3 linked regions of the Homo sapiens genome follow. The protein of the gene in region 1 interacts with the protein of each later gene in a biochemical or structural test. Each region holds a gene or a part of one and is shown on either strand. Other genes may lie near its edges.

What was found.
Region 2: the proteins of C1D (region 1) and NR1D1 form a complex in vitro, tested with the Homo sapiens proteins (one study listed by BioGRID).
Region 3: the proteins of C1D (region 1) and EXOSC10 form a complex in vitro, tested with the Homo sapiens proteins (one study listed by IntAct).

Annotation. Positions count from the first base shown.
Region 1 is NC_000002.12:68,045,945-68,053,049, forward strand, and holds part of C1D (nuclear nucleic acid-binding protein C1D), read right to left. Parts: intron 1,376-7,105; 5' UTR 1,367-1,375; coding exon 1,229-1,366; intron 467-1,228; coding exon 400-466; intron 100-399; coding exon 44-99; intron 1-43. UniProt on the Homo sapiens protein: Plays a role in the recruitment of the RNA exosome complex to pre-rRNA to mediate the 3'-5' end processing of the 5.8S rRNA; this function may include MPHOSPH6.
Region 2 is NC_000017.11:40,097,506-40,105,213, reverse strand, and holds the start of NR1D1 (nuclear receptor subfamily 1 group D member 1), read left to right. Parts: upstream 1-4,624; 5' UTR 4,625-5,119; coding exon 5,120-5,150; intron 5,151-7,708. UniProt on the Homo sapiens protein: Transcriptional repressor which coordinates circadian rhythm and metabolic pathways in a heme-dependent manner.
Region 3 is NC_000001.11:11,075,775-11,082,879, reverse strand, and holds part of EXOSC10 (exosome complex component 10), read left to right. Parts: intron 1-1; coding exon 2-192; intron 193-221; exon of another isoform or gene 222-346; intron 347-1,641; coding exon 1,642-1,798; intron 1,799-1,967; coding exon 1,968-2,116; intron 2,117-2,330; coding exon 2,331-2,381; intron 2,382-3,057; coding exon 3,058-3,169; intron 3,170-5,228; coding exon 5,229-5,279; intron 5,280-5,436; coding exon 5,437-5,515; intron 5,516-5,931; coding exon 5,932-6,038; intron 6,039-7,105. UniProt on the Homo sapiens protein: Catalytic component of the RNA exosome complex which has 3'->5' exoribonuclease activity and participates in a multitude of cellular RNA processing and degradation events.

The sequences.
Region 1 (7,105 bases):
TACAACAACAAACACATAAAATAAAAAGAAATTAAAATCTTACCAATTCCTGTTTTACTGGATGTTCCTTAGGATTAACTCCTTGGGTTGCCAAATAAACTACAAGAGAAAAATTTCATGGAATAAAATGGTGAATGTATTAATTTAAAACATTCCAATTAAAGAAACTAGTTATTCACAAAAAAGGAAAGTCCTACAAACAATTAAACTTTAAATTATTCAATTTCCATGTAATACTAAATCTATGTGTGGCTCACTGGCATCTAGATTTAAAAATAAGTATCTATTAAAAGTGTTATAAAGTATAATTGTAAATAAATTGTTAGCATTTTAAAAATAAATCATCTTTCACACAATAAGTAATTTGCTTTCTAATTAATTCCAAAGTAACACACATACCCCAAAACATTGAATTTAATGTGTATGCAGAAACCAAATCCACTTTTGCTTGTTCAAGTGGATCCAACTGTTAAAAAAGAAAGAGAGAGGGAAAGAGAGAAAGTGAGACAGAAAAAAAATACACAAACTTTGAACACCATCTGATAACATTTGACTTTTACCAAGTACAATGTATCAAAGAAGTTTTTTTCACTTCATATAATCCAATAACCAAATGATCTGAAAATAATTTGTAAAAAGAAGTTTTCTTAATGAGTGACTTTTGTCCACACATTTTCACCTTAGGGTATCATCTTTAGTTAGACAAGGAAAGTGCATAACCCAAGAAAAATTCTTTTGAATTATTTTAATTTCGGGAGTTACGATCTGGGCTTTGTAAGTCAAAAGTAATTTATCAATATAAACATTGTACATGATGCATTTATGTATAAGAAGCAGGCTTAGGCAATACGAAAGACAGAAGAAACATAATGAGATTTGTTTTAGACTGTCAAAGTCAATTTACTGTTTTTGTCCTATAGGGTTTCCAGAAACCCTGATAACATCATTGTAATACTTAAAAGGTCAAAGATAGAGTCTGTCAAAAAGAATACCGTGAGTGCTCCTTTTTTTTTCCAAAACTAAGTTAAAAACATAGTTAGGAGGTATTTCCTAAGGCTGGAGTTTTCTTTTGTTTTGTTTCCCCCCTAAAAATACCCAAACACTAATAAAATTGAAATAAAGGGGAAAAGGGGCATAGGTCATTAATCTGTTTCTTCTTCCACATGTTTCATAAAATAGCATTCTGTTTTATGAAATTCATTTTTAGGAAATTACATTTTTAAAATACCTTCTGCAACAACTCATTTCTAGAAACAGACATCATGGTCTTCAGCATCTCATCCACAGCACCAATGGAATTCTCAAACGCTGACAAATACTCGTGAATTTCTACTGGATAGTCTTCATTAATTTCTTCACCTGCCATTATGGCTGACTGGAAAAAATTAAATTCTTTGAATTCATATTAGAGACAGAGCTTGTTCTTTAGTTTCCAAAAAAAAAAATCAATAGGTCATATCATGTATTTCAAAGGCACTAAGAGTTAAAACCTGAAGACAAATCTTTTTAAAATTTAATTCTAGATTAACTACATTCCAATTTGTCCCCTTCTTAAGTTTCTTGGGGGGCTGTGGAAGAAGAACCAACCGAAGCCCACTAATGCTATGCACACCAAACCCTCAACATTTTTGTTTTGTTTTGTTTTGAGATGGGGTCTCCCTCTGTCGCCCAGGATAGTGCAATCACCACTCACTGCAACTTCCGCCTGCTGGGCCCAAGCGATCCTCCCACCTCTCAGCCTCCTGGGTAGCTGGGACTACAGGCCCATTGCCACCATGCCCAGGTAATTTTTTTGTATTTTTACAGAACTTTTACAGAACTAAAGACATGATGACCAAACATGAGATAGCAATAATCAAAATCCTACATCTTAAAAACTGTTGAATTAGCAAAGCAATTAAAGTTTGATAAATAGATCCCCTAATGATTGCTGAAGAAATGGTAAGCAAAGCACTTTTTTTAGAAAAACATGTATTTTAGTCCTTCTAAATATAGGTGTTGATCTAGGAGCATATTATATTCAACTAAAAAAGTAAAAATCTTAGGTCTAAAATACGTATCACAGAAATCATTTTTCAAGCCTATATATATTTATATTCCTTAAGCTTCTTTAAAATATTAATAAGAAATCCAAAGAGTCTATAAATCATATAAAGCCCATAAGCAGAAAAGAGGAAACTTGGGGGAAATAAACAATATGGTTTTCATTTGTGCTAGTGCATACTCTGACAGCCCATGCTTTAAAAATTCACCTATATCAATGTATTATTAAAGTATCTAAGTCCAAATTTTAGAAGCAATTCCAAGCCATAGGTAACATCTCTAGAATAAAAAAAATTTTTTTTGTATTAACAGAAATACCTCCTTTATCACATAGGTAAGGAGAACAGCATGAATGTGTATGACAGCAAATAGCATTGCAGAATGGAAGTAAAGAGACTTGGGCTTTCTGTCTTGATCACTGACTTTGTCACCTGAGATAAATCATTGAATCTCTCTTGGCCTCAAAGTCCTCATCCATAAAATAAGGCAGCTGGTCTAATGATCTGTAAAGTTCCTTATAGTTCTAAATGTTATGATTACTTTTAAGTTTGAAAAGTACTATTTAAATATTTAGTGACAACATATCAACATTTTTTCTGAATGAGTATATTCCACTGAGACATTTGGTTTCATTAAAAAAATAAAGTGAAGTCTATCTATTACTACTTGAGTTGTGAAGTTACTATCCAACTACTGTGCAACCAGCAGTTAAGGCGATAAGAAAACAAAACTACACAGAAAAGAACTGATTTCCAATTTCAAAAGGTTAACTGAAAATATGCACTTGCCGCTCATCCCTCCCCAAATCCCTACAATATGACAGATGAAATAGAAAAACATGAAAATAAAAATGCTGGAAACCAAGAAAAGCACAGATCTACCAGCAGACTTCAACAGTAGAAACTGTGTAAGCTAAAGAGCAAATTGGGCTGGACACGGTGGCTCCCGCTATAATCCCAGCACTTTTGGGAGGCAGAGGCAGGTGGATCACCTGAGGTCAGGAGTTCGAGACCAGCCTGGCCAACATAGTGAAACCCCATCTCTACTAAAAATACAAAAATTAGCCAGGCGTGGTGGCGCACGCCTGTAATCCCAGCTACTTGGGAGTCTGAGGCAGGAGAACTGCTTGAACCTGGGAGGTGGAGGTTGCAGTGAGCCAAGATTGTGCCACTACACTTCAGCCTGGGCAACAGAGTTAGACTGTCTCTCAAAAAAAAAAAAAAAAGAGCAAATGGGATCAGACTGCAAACAGGAAACAAAGCCAAGAAACCTTACAAACAAAAGAGAATAAGAATTTAGAAATAACTCCAAGAACAGAGCCATAAGCGCTGAAAATAGCTAACCTAATTTCCAGATCTGTGAAAGGACAGCTCTAGCATTTATTGCCTAGATAAAGGTATAAGTATAGGGATATACTGCAAAGAAGACTTGGTTATTTTCTCACTTTATGTAGAATTTTGAACCAATAAATTTGAAAATGTAAATGAAAACAATGATGTTCTTGGGAAGATATCAACTACCAAAACTAAAAAGAAGTACATAAACCATACAGATCATTAACCACAGAAAAAGAATTACACAGTAGTCAAAGACCTACCCTACAAAGAGGTTCTAGTCCTAGATTTTACAGGTAATTTCTTTCAAACCTTCAAGAAACAGTTAACTCCTATGGTATTTAGCTGTTTAAGAATACAGAGAAAGATGGAAAACCTTTTTCATAACATACACAAAAATAAACTCCAAATGAATTAAAAATGTAAACGTATAAACATATTAGATTATATCAAATATTTACATCATCTAAATGAAACCCAAATGCTATAGGAAATGGCTGACAAACTTAACTGCATAAAAACATTTTTGAAAAGTCGTACATGGTAAAAGGATACCATAAGCAAAGTTAAAAGGCAAGAGACAGCCAGGAGAAAGTATCTGACAAAATATCACAAAGAATTAGATAGACTAAATAAACAGTTCCTAGAAAGCAGTAAAACAAATTAAAATAATGAAGATATCATCACCTATCAGATTGGCAATAATTTTAAAGATTAAGAATGTTCAGTGTTAGAAAGGGTATACACTGAAAGTGGAATATAAATTGGTACAGGTTTTTAAAATGCACATACCCTTTGACTCAGGAAATCCTTTTAAGAATCTAGCCTATAAAAATCCTTGCACATGTGCTTATAAATTAAAATGTCCTCCTCAAACTTGTCTCTAAACTTACTCCAGTTTGTCATGTATCAAACTGTCCGTCTGCTGGACTATTACCCATAAGTTTAAATGTTTTATTTCTCCATCTAAGAAAGAAACAAAAAAAAAAAAAATTTCTTGACTTCATATCACCCCCCAGCTAAGGCCCCATTTTCTCTCTTTTACAACAAACTCCTCAAAAGAGATGCTTATACTAACAGTCTCTAATTCCTTTCCTTCCATCCTTTCTCAAATCTCCTACAAACATACCTTACTTTTCTCTCAAAATTGCACTTGGCAAGGTCACCCACACTACCACATGGTTAAATTCAATGGTCAATTCTCAGTTCTCCTTGAGTGACACTGTTGACTGCCTTCTCTTGGTTTTCTCCGTTTCCTTTCTATCTCACTGGCTCCTTTCTTGGTCTCTTCGATGCATCCTTCTCACATCCTCAGCCCCTTAACCAAGTTTGAAGTGCCCAGAGGCTGTTCCTGACTCTCTTCTCTAATTTACTCCCAGGTAAACTGAGGGTTTTAAATTGCTTTAGTAAACTGAAGACTCCAACATTTGTTTCTCCAAACCTGACCTCTCCATTGAACTTCATATTTACATTTCCAGCTGCATACTCAATATCTCTGGTTGGATGTCTAATAAATTCTCAAACAGAACGTGCCCAAAGCCAAATTCCTAACCTTGCCTACTGCAGTTTTCATCATTTCATTTCACGGCAACTTCAACTTTCCAATTGTTCAGTCCCAAAATTTCAGAGTGATCCTTGACTACTCTCTCTCACTTCATCTTTAATACACACCCAGAATCTAGCCATGTCCTACCACCTCTACTGCTACTATCCTGGTCCAAACCACCAAACCACTATCCTGGTCCAAACCATGCCTGAATGCCCTCCTAAATAGCCTTCTTGCTTCTGGCCAAAGTCTATTATCAAGAATACAGAGAGACCATTCAAAATGTAAATAAGATTATGCCATGCTTCTGCTCAGAAACTTCCAAAGGCTTGCCACCTCATTCGACATAAGACAAAAATCCTTACAGTGGGCCCGGCCTGGTGGCTCATGCCTGTAAATCCAGCACTTTGGGAGGCCAAGGCAGGAGGACAGCTTGAGCCCAGGAGTTCGAGACCAACCTGGGCAACATGGCAAGACCCCATATCTATAATTAAAATACATATTTATAGGCTGGGTGCAGTGGCTTATGCCTGTAATCCAAGCACTCTGGGAGGTCAAGATGGAAGGACTGTTTGAGCCTAGGAGTTCAAGACCAACTTGGGCAACACAGCAAGACCCCAACTCTATTTTTAAAATCAAAAAATAATAACTATTTATCTTTTAAAAATCCTTACAGTGGGTTCAAAAAGCTCAACACAATCTGCCCTGACTGCCCGTCACCTTCTGTGACTTCATCTCCCACTCTCCCTTGCTTATTTCATTCCAGCCACATTGTTCTTCCCCCACGACATCAGGCACATGCCTACCTCCCTTTGGGCTTCTCTCCTTCCTAGAATACTCTATTCCTCTCTTCCTCCCTTACCAATACCTTCAGAGCTCATTATGTTACCTTCACCAGATCTCCACTCAAATGTCATCTATTGGTATCTCACTCTTAACCACCCCATTTTAAAATGCACACCCCTCCCCCACACTCCCTATCTCCTCCCCAACCTTACATTCCTCAATATCAACTAACATATATTTATTTGTTGCCGGTCTACTGCCAAAAGGCAACTGCATGGGAGCAGGAATTTTTGTGATCCGTTCACAAGCACTGCCTGACAGTCAATACATTTGTTGAAATAAACTATAACAAAATATTGGAAATAATCTAGATATTCATCGACAGGGAAACAGTTAAATGAATTACACCATATTCATCCTTGAGAATATTACATGTCTTCTAAAAATAAAGAAGTAAATCTATATATAGTGACACACAATGAGAAGGAAAAAGTCAGAGAACAGAGAACATTGTATATAACACATAATGTGCCTAATATATGCCATTTGGTTTTTAAAAAAAAATTGTATATACATACATGTAGAAAAAGGTCTGGAAAGAACATACAAAAAATAGACATTTTCTCTGAAAAGAGACAAGGATTAGGGAATAGGTTCAAAGCAGACTCATTTTTTTAACTCTTCATTCTTCATTGTTTACATTTCAAAAAGCACATATTAAATTTTTAATAAAAAACAAATAAAGGCACTTAATAAAGTATTTTGGCTCTTAACAAATACTGTATGTATTTTTAAAAAACAAAAAAAGGTCTTTATTTAAATGTGAATTTTTTCATCAAATTTTCCTACGAGAAAATATTTCCTTTCTTCAGAAGAACATAGTAGAGATTTTTCCTGCAATTATTCCCTGTCCCTAAGCCCCAATAAACAAGCAGTTATTTATTGTTAGAACAGGTTAGGGTGAACACTGAAAGCATGGTAGTAAGTAAGAATAACTGCCCTCATTAAATCTGAACTGAGCCACTTGCCTTTTCCCTAACTAAAAAAATAAAGACAAGGGGGACTAAAAAATAAAGGCTCTTCTATTATGAGAAATTCCTCCTAATTCAATTGATTTCTACTAACACTTTATTATAGGCAGCTGCTGAGTATTTATTCCTTCCACAGAAAAAGCGCAGAAATTTCCCTCTGTCCCCTTAGCTACTCTGACCCCAGGATCAAGCAGTGACTCTACGATATCAGCAGCAAACTCTTGAATAGCACTGATTATGTGCCAGGCACTACTCTAAGCATTCCACATGCACTTGTTCATCTAAACCTCACAGATGAATAAACTGAGCCAAAAGAAGTTAAAGAACATGCCTAAAGTTGTACATGTTAAAATTTCCAAAGAAGA
Region 2 (7,708 bases), on another chromosome or scaffold:
TCTTAAAGTTCTCCCCAAAACATCCAGGCTTTGGGTGGGGTTGGGAAAGATAGCTGGCCTTTTAGAGACAAAGAAAAGGATTTAGGAGGGCAGGGAGTGAGTCTCTCCCAGGCACATGGCTGGTTCCCTGATTCAGGGGCATCCCCAGCATTTCTATACCAGGTTTGCATCACCTGGGCAGACAGGTTTCTACTCTGGGCAATGGTTTCTTGGTGAGAAAGGAGGGGGATGGGAAGGCATCTACAGAAGCCTGACCTGTTTCCAGCAAGGACCCACCCTCAGTCAGTCAGTCAGTCAGTCAGTCAGTCAGTCAAGCAGTTGGCCCAAGATTTAGGCCACCCAGAATTTGCACAGGGTGTTGCCCTGTTACCCAGAACAACCTACTGACAGGGAGAACAGATCTCAGATCAAACATGCACACCCACACACACAGCATTCACACTCACACACAAACATGCAGTCTCACTCATAGTCATAGAATCACACACACACACACACACACGTGCACACATACATAACTGACCAGAGCTTAGTGTTCTCAATACCTTTCCTTCTTCTCCTCTGTGTCTGCTGTCCTCTGCAGTCCAAATAAATCAAGGAAAATTAAAGACATATTTGGAAACACACAGGCAGGATCCAACACTGCCCCTAATGGGAAGGTTCGTCCCCAGAATCCCAGACTTGGGAATCCAAGTGGAAGTGTATGCAGAACCAGGGCAGTGCCTTGCTGTACCAGGTTGTGAATATGCATCTTTTCTACCTGGATCCAATCTGAGTACTATTTATGAAGAGTTAAGTGCTTTCTTGAGTTGAACTGGGCTATGGGAGAAATGGGGTGTGTGTGTGTGTGTGTAGAAGTGAACAGCAGGCCGGGCATGGTGGCTCACGCCTGCTATCCCAGCACTTTGGGAGGCTGAGGTGGGTGGATCACCTTAGGTCAGGAGTTCAAGACCAGCCTGACTAATATGGTGAAACCCCATCTCTACTAAAAATATAAAAAAAATTAGCCAGGCATTGTGGCGTGCTCCTGCAGTCCCAGCAACTTGGGACGCTGAGACAGGAGAATGGCTTAAACCCGGAAGGTGGAGGTTGCAGTGAGCCACTGCACTCCAGCCTGGGCGATAGAGTGGGACTCTGTCTCAAAAAAAAAAAGAAGTGAACAGCAATGTCCAGCTGGAGGGATAGGTGAGGAAGGTTGTGTTGAGATACACCTGTTGTCTTAAGGTCTTACAGCCAAGGTTGAGGTCAAAGAGAAACCAAGATTCTACTCCGAATCACCCAGAGCCAGACAACCCAGCCTTTCCCCCCTCCCTTTGGTGGCTTTGGGTCTCAGAGTTTCTGCCCTTCTCCCAGCAGCTGCTGACAGAGAAAGGAGCAGGGTACACAGACTGACTAGAAGCTTCTGGGGCCAAGAGAGAACCCTGCCTTTTCATTCTGTACTCCTCTCACCAGCTGTAGAAGAAAGACACCCGAATTACTTGTGAGGGAGAAAAGGAAGGGCCCTATAAGAAATGGAAAGGAAGGAAGGAAGGAGCAAGGGGGTAACCCCTCTCCTTTGCCCCCTCCCTCCCAGCCTCTGCCTTCACACCACACACAGACTGCAGAACCACCCAGGTTTTGCCAAGAGGAGAGTCAGGCTGACTGAATTTCAGCTCTCTCTACCTCTGCTCCCTCCTCCTTCTCACTGATTGCAGCAGGCGAGGAGTCTTGACCCACCCCAGCTCCCACTCCTAGAAGAACAAACATCCAGCAAGTATACAGGGGGTGGGTAGGACCTCCACAGCAGCAAACAGAGCTGTGGGCCTTGGGGAGGACCCCGGCCAAGTAAAGGGAGGGTGCTAGTGGTGGTGCTGTGCTGTGGGGAGCTAGATGCACGCCAGGGGTCCTGATTTTGAGTCCAGCCCTGACAGACACCTGGGCTCTGGCCCTGGCTCTGACTTGGAGTCAAGGTCACAGAGAGCAGGCAAGGGCAGGACAGGGCAATTCACCTCCTAGCTTTCCCTCCAGAGCCCAGAGGGTGGAGGGAGAGGGGGTGGAGGCTGAGAACCAAGTTTTCCTGAAAAGCCTCTTTCCTTGTTTGTTTTAGCCCCTCCCAGTTGCTCCCACACTCTGCTGCAGCTTCCCAACTCTGGGCCAAAGGGCCAGAGAAGAGCCCACTGCCCTCTCTCTCCCACTTTTCTTGGGAGCAGGAGAACAAAGCTAAAGCCTAGCCCATTCCAGGAAGCTCATCTTCTACAAGGAGTCAGAGGGTGAGTGGTCAAGCTCCTGCAGTCAACCTCACTGTCCTCACTACCCAGTTTACTCCTGTGCTCATATTATTATTCTTTTTTTTTTTTTCTTTTTTTGAGATGGAGTTTCGGTCTTGTTGCCCATGCTGGAGTGCACTGGCGCGATCTCAGGTCACTGCAACCTCTGCCTCCCGGGTTCAAGCAATTCTCCTGCCTCAGCCTCCCGAGTAGAGTAGCTGGGACTACAGGCGTGCGCCACCACGCCCAGCTAATTTTTGTATTTTTAGTAGAGACGAGGTTTCTCCATGTTGGCCAGGCTGGTCTCAAACTCCTGACCTCGGGTGATCCACCTGCCTCGGCCTCCCCAAGTGCTGGGATTACAGGTGTGAGCCACCACCACACTTGGCCTTTTTTTTTTTTCTTTGAGATGGACTCTCACCCTGTTGCCCAGGCTGTTGTGCAGTGGCATGATCTCGGCTCACTGCAATCTCCATCTCCTGGGTTCAAGCAATTCTCCTGCCTCAGCCTCCCGAGTGGCTGGGACTACAGGCGTGCGCCACCACGCCCAGCTAATTTTTGTATTTTTAGTAGAGATGGGGTTTCACCATGTTGGCCAGGCTGGTCTCGAACTCCTGACCTCAGGTGATCTGCCCACTTCAGCCTCCCAAAATGCTGGGATTACAGGTGTCAGCCACCACCCCCGGACTCCCATATTCTTTTTCTCTACCTTTTCGGTGGCTTTCATGTTTCCCAGGCATCCATCAATACCATCCCAGGAGCTGCCTGTGGAGAAGGGCTTCCTATGTGAAGAAAACCCTCTCTAGAAGCACTGGGACTGGGGAGGAATTAGCGGGAGCAGCAGGTGGCTCAGGCTCCCTCTCCCTTCGCTGCCTAAGAAGCTTCCATCCCCTCCATGACCCAAGCCCTCTAACATGATAGATCTCCTCTACTTGAGATCTGTTATTACTCATGGGACAGTTGCTGCTCTGAAGCGAAATACTGGCTGTTTTTTGTTTGTTTGTTTTGGAGACAGAGTCTCACTCTATCCCCCAGGCCGGAGTGCAATGGCGATCTCGGCTCACTGCAACCTCCACCTCCCGGGTTCTAGCGATTCTCCTGCCTCAGCCTCCTGACTAGCTGGGATTACAGGCACCCACCACCACATCCGGCTAATTTTTGTATTTTTAGTAGAGACGTGGTTTCACCGTGTTGGTCAGGCTGGTCTCAAACTCCTGACCTCAGGTGATCAACCCACCTCAGCCTCACAAAGTGCTGGGATTACAGGCATGAGCCAAAGCACCCGGCAATGCTGGCTGTTTCTAACCCCTGTTCAGTATTTCACTTGTACATCTACCCACCTTCCCATTCGGGGTGGGCAGATGAAACTAGCAATGGACGTCTGACCTTGGGTCGGTCACTTCTCCTAAGCTTCCTGTTCCCCACTAGTAAAAAGAGGGAGGCTTAAGATGATCTACATGTTCCCCTCTGAGTAGTAATCTTCTGTGGAATTCATATTTTATCCTCCAGCACCGAGGGGCAGGGGTGTCACTCTGCCCCCACCCCCTGCCTCACCTCTTCCCCATTACTTTAGGACCTCAAAGCACTTTCACTATTAGTTCCCCTCTGTTGTCCTTTTTATTTCCCAGACAAAGGGAAATGACTCACCCCAAAGTCAACTGGAGTGGGTGGAATGGTGTCATACAAGCAAACAGGGAGTCCCTACAGACATCCCTACCTCTGTGGGAACTCCTTCCCCTGGAGGTGTTCTCCCTAAGGCGAGTAGAAGGGAAAGGGGGTCACATTTCCTTTCCTTCTCTGGACTTTGCCCTGAAGCAGAGGGCAGCCTAAGCTCCTGACTCCAGGGAAATCTCCCTCCCCGGCTTCTCTCTCTCCCGGTCACCAGTAACCTCAGGACGAGGTCAGTCCTGCAATCACGTGAAGCCCTCACGTTTGCAAGGTTTGCAGAAAGGGCCTCTTAGCTTTGATCTCCCAGACAGCAAACAAGCTTGCCAGTCCCTCCCCAGAAATTCACATGCCCCTGCCATACAGGCTTTCTAAACACGCCACCCTGACTCTTCAGCGCACCCCACCCCACCCCACTCTCAGCTCCTCCCAGGTCCCGGCAAGCGCTTTGCCAGGCAGAAAGGGGAAAGGCACGCAGTCCGCCCACTTTGTCGGTGGACTACAAATCCCGACAGTCTTGTCGTTGCGCAGGCGCGCAAGAGCTCAACGTGCCGGCTGTTGGAAAAGTGTGTCACTGGGGCACGAGGCGCTCCCTGGGATCACATGGTACCTGCTCCAGTGCCGCGTGCGGCCCGGGAACCCTGGGCTGCTGGCGCCTGCGCAGAGCCCTCTGTCCCAGGGAAAGGCTCGGGCAAAAGGCGGCTGAGATTGGCAGAGTGAAATATTACTGCCGAGGGAACGTAGCAGGGCACACGTCTCGCCTCTTTGCGACTCGGTGCCCCGTTTCTCCCCATCACCTACTTACTTCCTGGTTGCAACCTCTCTTCCTCTGGGACTTTTGCACCGGGAGCTCCAGATTCGCCACCCCGCAGCGCTGCGGAGCCGGCAGGCAGAGGCACCCCGTACACTGCAGAGACCCGACCCTCCTTGCTACCTTCTAGCCAGAACTACTGCAGGCTGATTCCCCCTACACACTCTCTCTGCTCTTCCCATGCAAAGCAGAACTCCGTTGCCTCAACGTCCAACCCTTCTGCAGGGCTGCAGTCCGGCCACCCCAAGACCTTGCTGCAGGGTGCTTCGGATCCTGATCGTGAGTCGCGGGGTCCACTCCCCGCCCTTAGCCAGTGCCCAGGGGGCAACAGCGGCGATCGCAACCTCTAGTTTGAGTCAAGGTCCAGTTTGAATGACCGCTCTCAGCTGGTGAAGACATGACGACCCTGGACTCCAACAACAACACAGGTACTGAGATTTCTTTACTATCATCTTTTCCCTGTCACTGTCTCCCCACCTCCATCTACGCCTTATAAAAAGAGGAACTTTGTAAGGGACTGGGGTGTCCCTCGGCCCGGAGATTTGCTAACGTGCTGCGGTGCTTTAGTGTGGGATTTCCAGAGCGGCTTGTTCGGGCTGGAAATGCTCTCAGAAACGCCCCATCACCACCCCTCAGAGTCCCAAAGCTCCCTTGAGCCTCGAATCCCTGGGCAGGAGGAAATGGAGAGGAGGTACGGGTGGTGAAGCGAAGAATTTAGGGGGACTGGGAGCTTTGGAACAGTGCCCCGAAACGGCCCCATCTGTCCACTACCTGCAGCTGTAGTATGCCTGGCCTCAGAAAACGGACCCCCTCCCCTCTTGTCTTCCCCCTCCTCTAGTTCCTGCAGGCGCGAGGGAATCTGAGAAGAGTGGCGCGATGGGGTTCAGGGAAGGAGGGGCTGGGAGAATCGTTCGGATCTCACTGGGGAATCCTCAGTGACAGGAGGGAGCGACACTTGAGGAGTCCAGAGCGTGGTGCCCGGCCCGAGGGAGGGCACCTACAGGGCTCCGGCCGCCGGGAGGGCTCACATGGCTCTAGAGCCGGGCCCACGTGCTGCGTTTGTTTTCATTCAGCAGAAGCCGTGGCTGCCACCCCATTGGTCGTTGCCTCCCGGCCTCGTTACATAATGAGCTCCGCCCCCCCGGTCGCCCCGGCAACGCGTGTTCCCTTCTCTCCTCCCCTAGGTTGTCCTGGCCCTGCTATCGTTCGGGGTCCAGCCCACGACCTGGTGGCCGGGGAAGGGCGGGTAGGAGGCGGGGCGACTGCTCTCGATTGACGGGAAGCGAGGAGGGCGGGGCCTCGAGTTCCGGGGTTCCTCGTTGGGGAGCCACGTGCGAGAGGCACACGTGGAGCAGGGACGTGAGGCCGGCTGAGGGCCCAGCTCCCGCCCTGCCCCGCCCCGCCGAGATCTGGGTGAAGCTGGGCTGACTCACCGCCCCCGCCTGCCTCCTTTTCCGGTCCGCCTGCCCGGCCCCCTCCCCCATCACCAAAACAAAGTAACATGGAGCCATTCCTGACCTTTCATGGCCTTCTGTTTTACACTCCCTAAAGAGACCTCACCCCTAACCACCCTTCTCACTCCTTTCCACTTCACTCTTATTTGCACCTACTTCACCGTACTGCATTTAGACTCAGCTTCCCCACATTACAAATTCCTGTTCCCCAAGCTTCTCTCTCCTTAGTTCTGCGAGCATTGTCTTACCCCCATCTCCACCAGACAAGCTGCAGTTTGCCTACTAAGGGCTCCCCAAAGCAACTGCACCCCACAATCATAGCTGAAATGATACTGTCCTTTTTTTCTCACAGAAAGGAAAACTGAGACCCAAAGAGGGGAGTTGATGTCCTCTAGGTCACAAAATAAGTTGGTAGTGATGGGTCTAGACCTAGACCTAGACTCTTGAGTATGCTCCTCACTTCCACGTTGGAAGCCTCTGCATGAAGGTCTCACTCCTTTTTGGGGGATGGGTGAACTAGGTCAACTTCATTTACTGCCAACTAATGATTCCATCCCCCACCTCAGCCCTGAAACCGGGGGAGCTGATCTGTTGTGCAACTATTTTCCAAGGAGCTGGGTTCACCCTGACCAACCTTGAGCTATTTTAGGGCCGCCCTGCCCAGTTCAGTGTGTGTCAGTGGGTGAGCAAGACATGTGCCTCTGCAGACACAGTGGCATGGCATGTGTTAGGTCACATGTGTCCTGGGATCCTCCCTTCTCCCACCCCGCCCATGGCAGACCAATCTAGGTGCTTGCCGGAGGTGTGGCAGGCAGGTCACCTTTTTCTCCTGCTAATACCACGGGAGCACAGCCACCTCATTGGCAATGTAACCAGAGGGTCAAAGTCCCTGAATGGCCAGAGAGCCAAGGTCATTGTTACCAGGCTGAGATCTGAAGGGGGAATTTTAGAGCCCCAGGCTGGACAGTTTGTACTTCCACCTCCTGCAACTCGCACCTCGAAGTCCTTTTTGGACACAGGGATAGACTCCACTGTGGCTCACTCTCTTAAGAGGCCAGGGGAACCAGGCTGGGCAGATTCCTTCCCTTCATTTCCTTCAGAGAATATATGTCCCCAACTGGGGGGAATGTGACTGTCTTACTTTTGTAAACCCTCCATTCTCTTTACTGTTGGCTACCTATCTCTCCATGGTCCATGGTCTCATTCCTGGAATGGTCTTAGTGTTAAAATCAGCAGCTGGGTTTTTGTTTTTGGAGGACTGGGCACTTTGAATGGTGCTCAGCTGCCCATCCCATCCCCAGATCTTCAACTGACAACTAAGTCATTAGCTGCAGTCGATATTCCCAAGGAAGGCAACTAAGGAAGGGGGGCACATATGCGAGATGCCACAGGGGTCATGCCTCATACTGAAAGCAGAAGCTGAAGGTGGCCTGCAAAGGGTCGTAGGTGTTGCTTGGCCATGCCATGTCTACTGTGTGTTGGGGAATTGCTTATTAACTCCAAGATTAGGGGCTCCACATGGTGAACTGAGT
Region 3 (7,105 bases), on another chromosome or scaffold:
GGTCTTTCATGGTGCTGATTCAGACATAGAATGGCTACAGAAAGACTTTGGGTTGTATGTAGTAAACATGTTTGATACTCATCAGGCAGCACGCCTTCTTAACCTGGGCAGGCACTCACTCGATCATCTCCTGAAACTCTACTGCAACGTGGACTCAAACAAGCAATATCAGCTGGCTGATTGGAGAATACGGTCAGTTTGCTCTTACTGAGGAAATGTGGGTGGCAGAAGAAAGTGATTATTCATTAACCTGTCGTCCAGAGAGACCTGGGTTTGAGCCCTACCACGCTCATTGAGATGAATGGCATCAGGCTTTTCGCCAGGCATCTTCAGCAGCGTAAAAGTGGTAGGAAATTTTTTAATGCTAAGGTGGACTTTATGATGGGCTGATGCAGTTACACTGTGTTCCATGGAAATAGTGGTTGAAAAAGAGGTGCCGCACCAGTATTTGCCCATGCTGGTCTTTTGTTTGAAACTGGGATCTTTCTACCAGATGATTTTGTGTGTGTGTAAGATCTTCTGTAGGGATGATTGTGTGTGTGTGTGTGTGTGCAAGATGACCTTCCATAGGTGGGAAAGAATTCTAAGGGACACTGTTGTTTAGCTTTACACTGAGCGTTTTTTTGTGGCATAAGGTAGCAGTTTTGCCCCACTTCCTGCAGGCCTTGCTCAGCTTGGTCGTTTTCCGCTTGGTTGCTACCTCTCCGAGGTTGCACCTGTCATAGGAAGGTGCTACTGAGCTTTTTCAGGAATTCCACATGCCAGAATGCCAGAATTTCTTTTTTTCTTTTTTTTTTTTTGAGATGCAGTTTCACTGTTGCCCAGGCTGGAGTGCAATGGCGCGATCTCGGCTCACCACAACCTCTGCCTCCCGGGTTCAAGCAATTCTCCTGCCTCAGCCTCCTGAGTAGCTAGGATTACAGGCGTGCACCACCACGCCCAGCTAATTTTGTATTTCCAGTAGAGACGAGGTTTCTCCATGTTGGTCAGACTGGTCTCAAACTCCTGACCTCAGGTGATCCTCCCGCCTCCGCCTCCCAAAGTGCTGGGATTACAGGCGTGAGCCACCGCGCCTGGCCCAGAATGCCAGAATTTCTAAATATAAAAGTAAAATTACATTTGGACTGATAAAATCCAAATAAAAGATAAAAATTGATAAAATCTAAAAACCACTCCCTGTTACGGAGCCCTTACCCTGTGCCAAGCTCTGGGCTAAGTGCTTCAAGGATGTGGTCCTGTGTAGTCCTCACAACAGCCTATGAAGTACCTGGTTCCCATTTCACAAGTTAGGTGGGTCAGCCCAAAGAGGTTAAGGAACTTGTCCAAGGACAGACATCTGGAGCTGAGATTTGAACTCAGGACACCAGTGGCCCCTTTTCTACTGCCTCTTGTGTGTGTCCAGAGTAGCTGACAGTGCCCTTATTTTAACCACCGCATTACCCTGCCTCCAATTCTACCCAGCTGTTAAAATAATGGTTTATCATGTTAAAATGCAGGAAATGTTGGCATAACTGCAGTATTGACTATGAAAGGATCTTTCATATTGGAAGGGTCTAAGGAAGTCCCAGCACCCAAGGAATAGACAAATTGAATTGCTGTCCTTGGGGGCAATCAGTAAAACATTGTCCTCTGCAATTCCAGCCCTCTGCCCGAGGAGATGCTCAGCTACGCCCGGGATGACACCCATTACCTGCTATATATCTATGACAAAATGAGGCTGGAGATGTGGGAGCGCGGCAACGGGCAGCCGGTGCAGCTGCAGGTGGTGTGGCAACGGAGCAGGGACATCTGCCTCAAGGTACACCTCAGCCGCAGTCACACAGACCGCGACACTTGGGCTCTGTGTCTGGCCAGGTTCTAGTTCTTAGGTTTGCTCCTTACATTCATGAAAAGAGCCAAACATTTTCCAGAGCCCAGGGCACAATTTTGATTCCCGTTGATTTTGAATGTTCTCTAATACTTTGTAGAAATTCATCAAACCTATCTTCACGGATGAGTCCTACCTTGAACTCTATAGGAAGCAGAAGAAGCACCTTAACACACAGCAGTTGACAGCCTTTCAGCTGCTGTTTGCCTGGAGGGATAAAACAGCTCGCAGGGAAGATGAAAGTTACGGGTAAGGGATTAGAGGTTCTTTTAATACTTGTTTCCAGACTGAGGAGATCTAATAACAAGTAAATAATGGGCTTTTTTCTTTTGCTATGAAAGCTGGTTATTTCCCCTATGTGACAGCATCTAATGGAACTTACTGGCTGAATGTAATGTGTCCCCACCGTGTGTGTGTGTGTGTGTGTGTGTGTGTGTGTGTGTGTGTGTTTTTTTTTTTCCAGATATGTACTGCCAAACCACATGATGCTGAAAATAGCTGAAGAACTGCCTAAGTGAGTTTCAAATCTGATTAATATGTTCTGACTTTCTCAGTAGATCTGATGTTCTTCAAAATCAAGCTTTTCTGGTTGCTATTACCCAAGGCTGCTTACTCAGAGATTAATGCTCCAAGCTTGGAAGGTAGCAAGTTGAAGGAATATAGAATTTCTGCCCTCAGGCTGCCATTTAAGCACTAAAACTTCTGAACTGGAATCATTTCAATGATTATGCCTTAGTTTGAGTTTATTTTAAGTCTCTGAGCCTTATAGCATCTACTTGCAAGGGAAGAAAATGTCCCAGATTCTGTCATCTGTACTTTCTTCCAAATTAAAGCAGCTCATGATCTTAAACGTTTTGTGATCTTGATTGAAGTATAAGCAAGAATGAAAATCCACAGCCCGTTGGTTGCCCCCTGCGGAATTGAGAATCCACAGTGCTATGGCACTTACTTTCAGCTCTCCCTGATTGTGGGAGTCAGGCTCCAAGAGGGATCCACTTAAAGCTTGGTGTCGCAAAGAACACATGGAGAAGTTGGCCTAGGCTGGCCTGACATCAGTGTTTCCTTAGTCACCTACCTGTAGCTTCAGCTTAGGTGGCAGCCTGGCTTTACCCAGTCATTATTCTTATCTGGAAGCCTTTAAGGGCTGCGTTTCTGAGTGACAAGTTGAGTGTGTTCTTACTTGTCTTCAGGGAACCTCAGGGCATCATAGCTTGCTGCAACCCAGTACCGCCCCTTGTGCGGCAGCAGATCAACGAAATGCACCTTTTAATCCAGCAGGCCCGAGAGATGCCCCTGCTCAAGGTAAGAAGCTTTTCTGCGGCTGGGCACAGTGGCTCACGCCTATAATCTCAGCACTTTGGGAGGCTGAGGTGGCTGGATCATTTCAGGTCAGGAGTTCGAGACCAGCCTGGCCAACATGGTGAAACCCCGTCTCTACTAAAAATACAAAAAATTAGCCAGGCGTGTGGTGCACGCCTGTAATCCCAGCTACTCCGGAGGCTGAGGCAGGAGAATTGCTTGAATCCGGGAGGCGGAGGTTGCAGTGAGCCGAGATCGCGCCACTGCACTCTAGCCTGGGAGGCAGAGCGAGACTCCGTCTCAAAAAAAAAAAAAAAGATTTTCTACTGAAGGGTCCCAACTTAGCAAGCCTGTTTTTTTTTTGTTTGTTTGTTTTTTGTTTTTTTTAGACGGAGTCTCGCTCTGTCTCCAGGCTGGAGTGCAGTGGCATGATCTCGGCTCACTGCAACCTCCGCCTCCTGGATTCAAGCAGTTCTCCTGACTCAACCTCCTGAGTCGCTGGGATTACAGGCATGCACCACCACGCCTGGCTAATTTTGTATTTTTAGTAGAGGCGGGGTTTCACCATGTTGGCCAGGCTGGTCTCGAACTCCTGACCTCAGGTGATCCACCACCTGGGCCTCCCAAAGTGCTGGGATTACAGGCGTGAGCCATCATGCCCAACTTTAGCAGGCCTGTTTTTTCTGCTAGTGTCTTATTCCTTGTGGCTTCCTAGATTCATGAGCTGGTCTGCATTCTAAACAACCCTAGGGAAATAATAGGGCTTAGGAAATCCAGTGTGTGTGTCTTGATGAATTTAGCTGCTTTTTTTTATGATAGTTGAGAGCTAAGACTCTTTATTTATGACCTTAGCTTTGATGATTCAGCAGCAAGTACTGTCTGGTAACTGGGCCAATTCACTGTTCTAAGGCAGTTAATGTGGTGGAGTGAGATGGAGCGGTGACCTCAGCAGAGGGAGCTAGTTTTGGGAGCCTGGCGATGGCCCAGATGTGAAGTGATAGCTCCCTGAATGAGTGAGGAATCACACACTGAGAAGGAAAGAACAGGTGTAGGAAGCATCAGAAGAAAAGATTGATGAGACTTCGTAGCAAATGCTGACAATGGCAGCCAGTTTTCTTTTGTTTTTTTTGTTGTTGTTGTTGTTTTGAAACAGGGTCAGCCGGGCGCGGTGGCTCACGCCTGTAATCCCAGCACTTTGGGAGGCCGAGGCGGGCGGATCACGAGGTCAGGAGATCGAGACCATCCCGGCTAAAACGGTGAAACCCCGTCTCTACTAAAAATACAAAAAATTAGCCAGGCGTAGTGGCGGGCGCCTGTAGTCCCAGCTACTTGGGAGGCTGAGGCAGGAGAATGGCGTGAACCCGGGAGGCGGAGCTTGCAGTGAGCCGAGATCCCGCCACTGCACTCCAGTCTGGGCGACAGAGCGAGACTCCGTCTCAAAAAAAAAAAGAAACAGGGTCTTGCTCTGACACCCAGGCTGGAGTGCAGTGGTGCAATCATGGCTCACTGTAGCCTCGCATCTGCTAGGCTCCCACCTTAGCCTCCTGAGCAGCTGGGACCACAGGCATACACCACCATACCCAGCTATGTTTTTTTTAATTTTTTGTAGAGATGGGTCTTGCTGTGTTTCCCAGACTGGTCTTGAACCCGTGGGCTCAAGCAGTCCTCCCACCTCAGCCTCCCAAAGTACTGGAATTACAGTTGTGAGCCACCTGCCAGCCCCACATTTGCAATTTTTGTGTTAAAAATGTCTTTGTAAGCTCTGTACTTTGTCCAAGTAAAGAGAGACCTTGATTACTAGAGAAGAGTCTTTTTCAAGCTCTTTGGAATCCTTCCTATTGTGCTTAGTCATGTTAAAGAGCTTTATTCTTTCATTCTACAAATAATTATTGAGCACCAAATAATTATCATGCCAGGCACTGTAAGGAGTGAAGAGAGGAAAGAAAATCTCTGGGCTTTTGAGAAACAGGCTGGTGAAGGAATACAGTCAGCGCTGGAGACTGGGGGTTGGACTTGAGGTGCTTGGGCAACTTTCCTCAATTCCCTTCGTTTTTTTCCTTAGTCTGAAGTTGCAGCCGGAGTGAAGAAGAGCGGACCGCTGCCCAGTGCTGAGGTAGAGTGTCGGATCTGTTTTCTCCCCCAGGAGGGAAAACGTCAAGTCACAGCCAGTGCAAGTACACCTCTGACAGAGGCCTGTGCTGACAGCTGGCAGAAAGCTACTGCCGGCTTGCACGTTTTACATGCCAGCCTGCTGGTGTCTTTTAATGCAGAGATTGGAGAATGTTCTCTTTGGACCTCACGACTGCTCCCATGCCCCTCCGGATGGCTATCCAATCATCCCAACCAGTGGTAAAGTCGAGAGCCCTCCTGACTGTCCCGAAGAGGTTGGGACACAGCTACCTTGTCTAAAATTCTGTAGGCTTGGCCGGGCGTGGTGGCTTATGCCTGTAATGCCAGCATATTGGAAGGCTGAGGCGGGTAGATCACCTGAGGTCAGGAGTTTGAGACCAGCCTGGCCAACATGGTGAAACCCCATCTCTACTAAAAATACAAAAATTAGCTGGCATGGTGGTGGGCACCTGTAATCTTAGCTACTTAGGAGGCAGAGGCAGGAGAATCACTTGAACCGAGGAGGCGGAGGTTGCAGTGAGCCGAGATTGTGCCATTGTACTCCAGCCTAGGGGACTACACTAAAACTCCATCTCAAAAAGAAAAAATAAACAAAATTCTGTAGGCTTTGACCTTACTATCTTCTGCTCCTCTAGGATCTGTGCCAGTTCAGAAGCAGGCGAGCCTCTTCCCTGATGAAAAAGAAGATAACTTGCTGGGTACCACATGCCTGATTGCCACAGCTGTCATCACGTTATTTAATGTGAGTAGCACAGAAACTTCACTGAGGTGATGAGGACCCCCTGGGATTTACTGGATTTATTCAGCAGGCTGTCTGCCTGGAGCATTGCATACACTCGGAGACTAATGCTGAGAGCAAAACCCAGCAGTGCTGGGAGAGGCATAGAGACCAATGAGCAAGGTGGCACTGACCACTCTGGAGGAGGTGGTCTGGGGACGTGGATGGGGGATTCTCTTGAGCTCTGTGTGAAGAAATCTTCCAGGAAAGGCTGACGTCCTGTTGTTGAACAGCACCTAGTGGGAGGAGGGCCTGCGCTAAGAGAACATACAAGCAGGGCTTTCCAGACAAGCTGCAGTGGTGGTGGAGGAAAAACGGTTCACCTGGATGCCCAGCAGGGGTGGCATGGGTGTACTGTCCGATGAACTGTAGAATGTGCGCTGCCCATAGCTTCCTGCCTGACCCCAGCACCACATATGTGTGCTTTCAGTGAAGAAGAGAAATGATTTTTTTTTTTTTTGAGACAATCTTGTTCTGCCACCAAGGCTGGAATGCAGTGGCACAATCATGGCTCACTGCAGCCTTGACTTCTGAGGCTCAAACGATCCTCCTGCCTCAGCCTCCTGAGTAGCTGGGATTACAGGCATGAGTCACTGTGCCCAGCTATTTCACTTTTTTTGTTTGTTTGGTTTGGTTTTTTGAGATGGAGTTTCGCTCTTGTTGCACAGGCTGGAGTGCAGTGGCATCATCTCGGCTCACTGCAACCTCCACCTCCCAGGTTCAAGCGATTCTCCTGCCTCAGCTTCCCTAGTAGCTGGGATTGCAGGCGCCCGCCACCATACTTAGCTAATATTTTATATTTTTAATAGAGATGGGGCCACTATGTTGGCCAGGCTGGTCTCGAATGCCTGACCTCAGGCGATCCACCCACCTAAGCCTCCCAAAGTGCTGGGATTACAGGCATGAGCCACCACACCCGGCATTTTTTTTTTTTTTTTTTTTTTTTTTTTTTGTGACAGGATCTCATCCTGTCACCCAGGTGGGAGTGCAGTGGCACCATCCTGGCTCACTGCAACCTCTGCCTCCTGGGC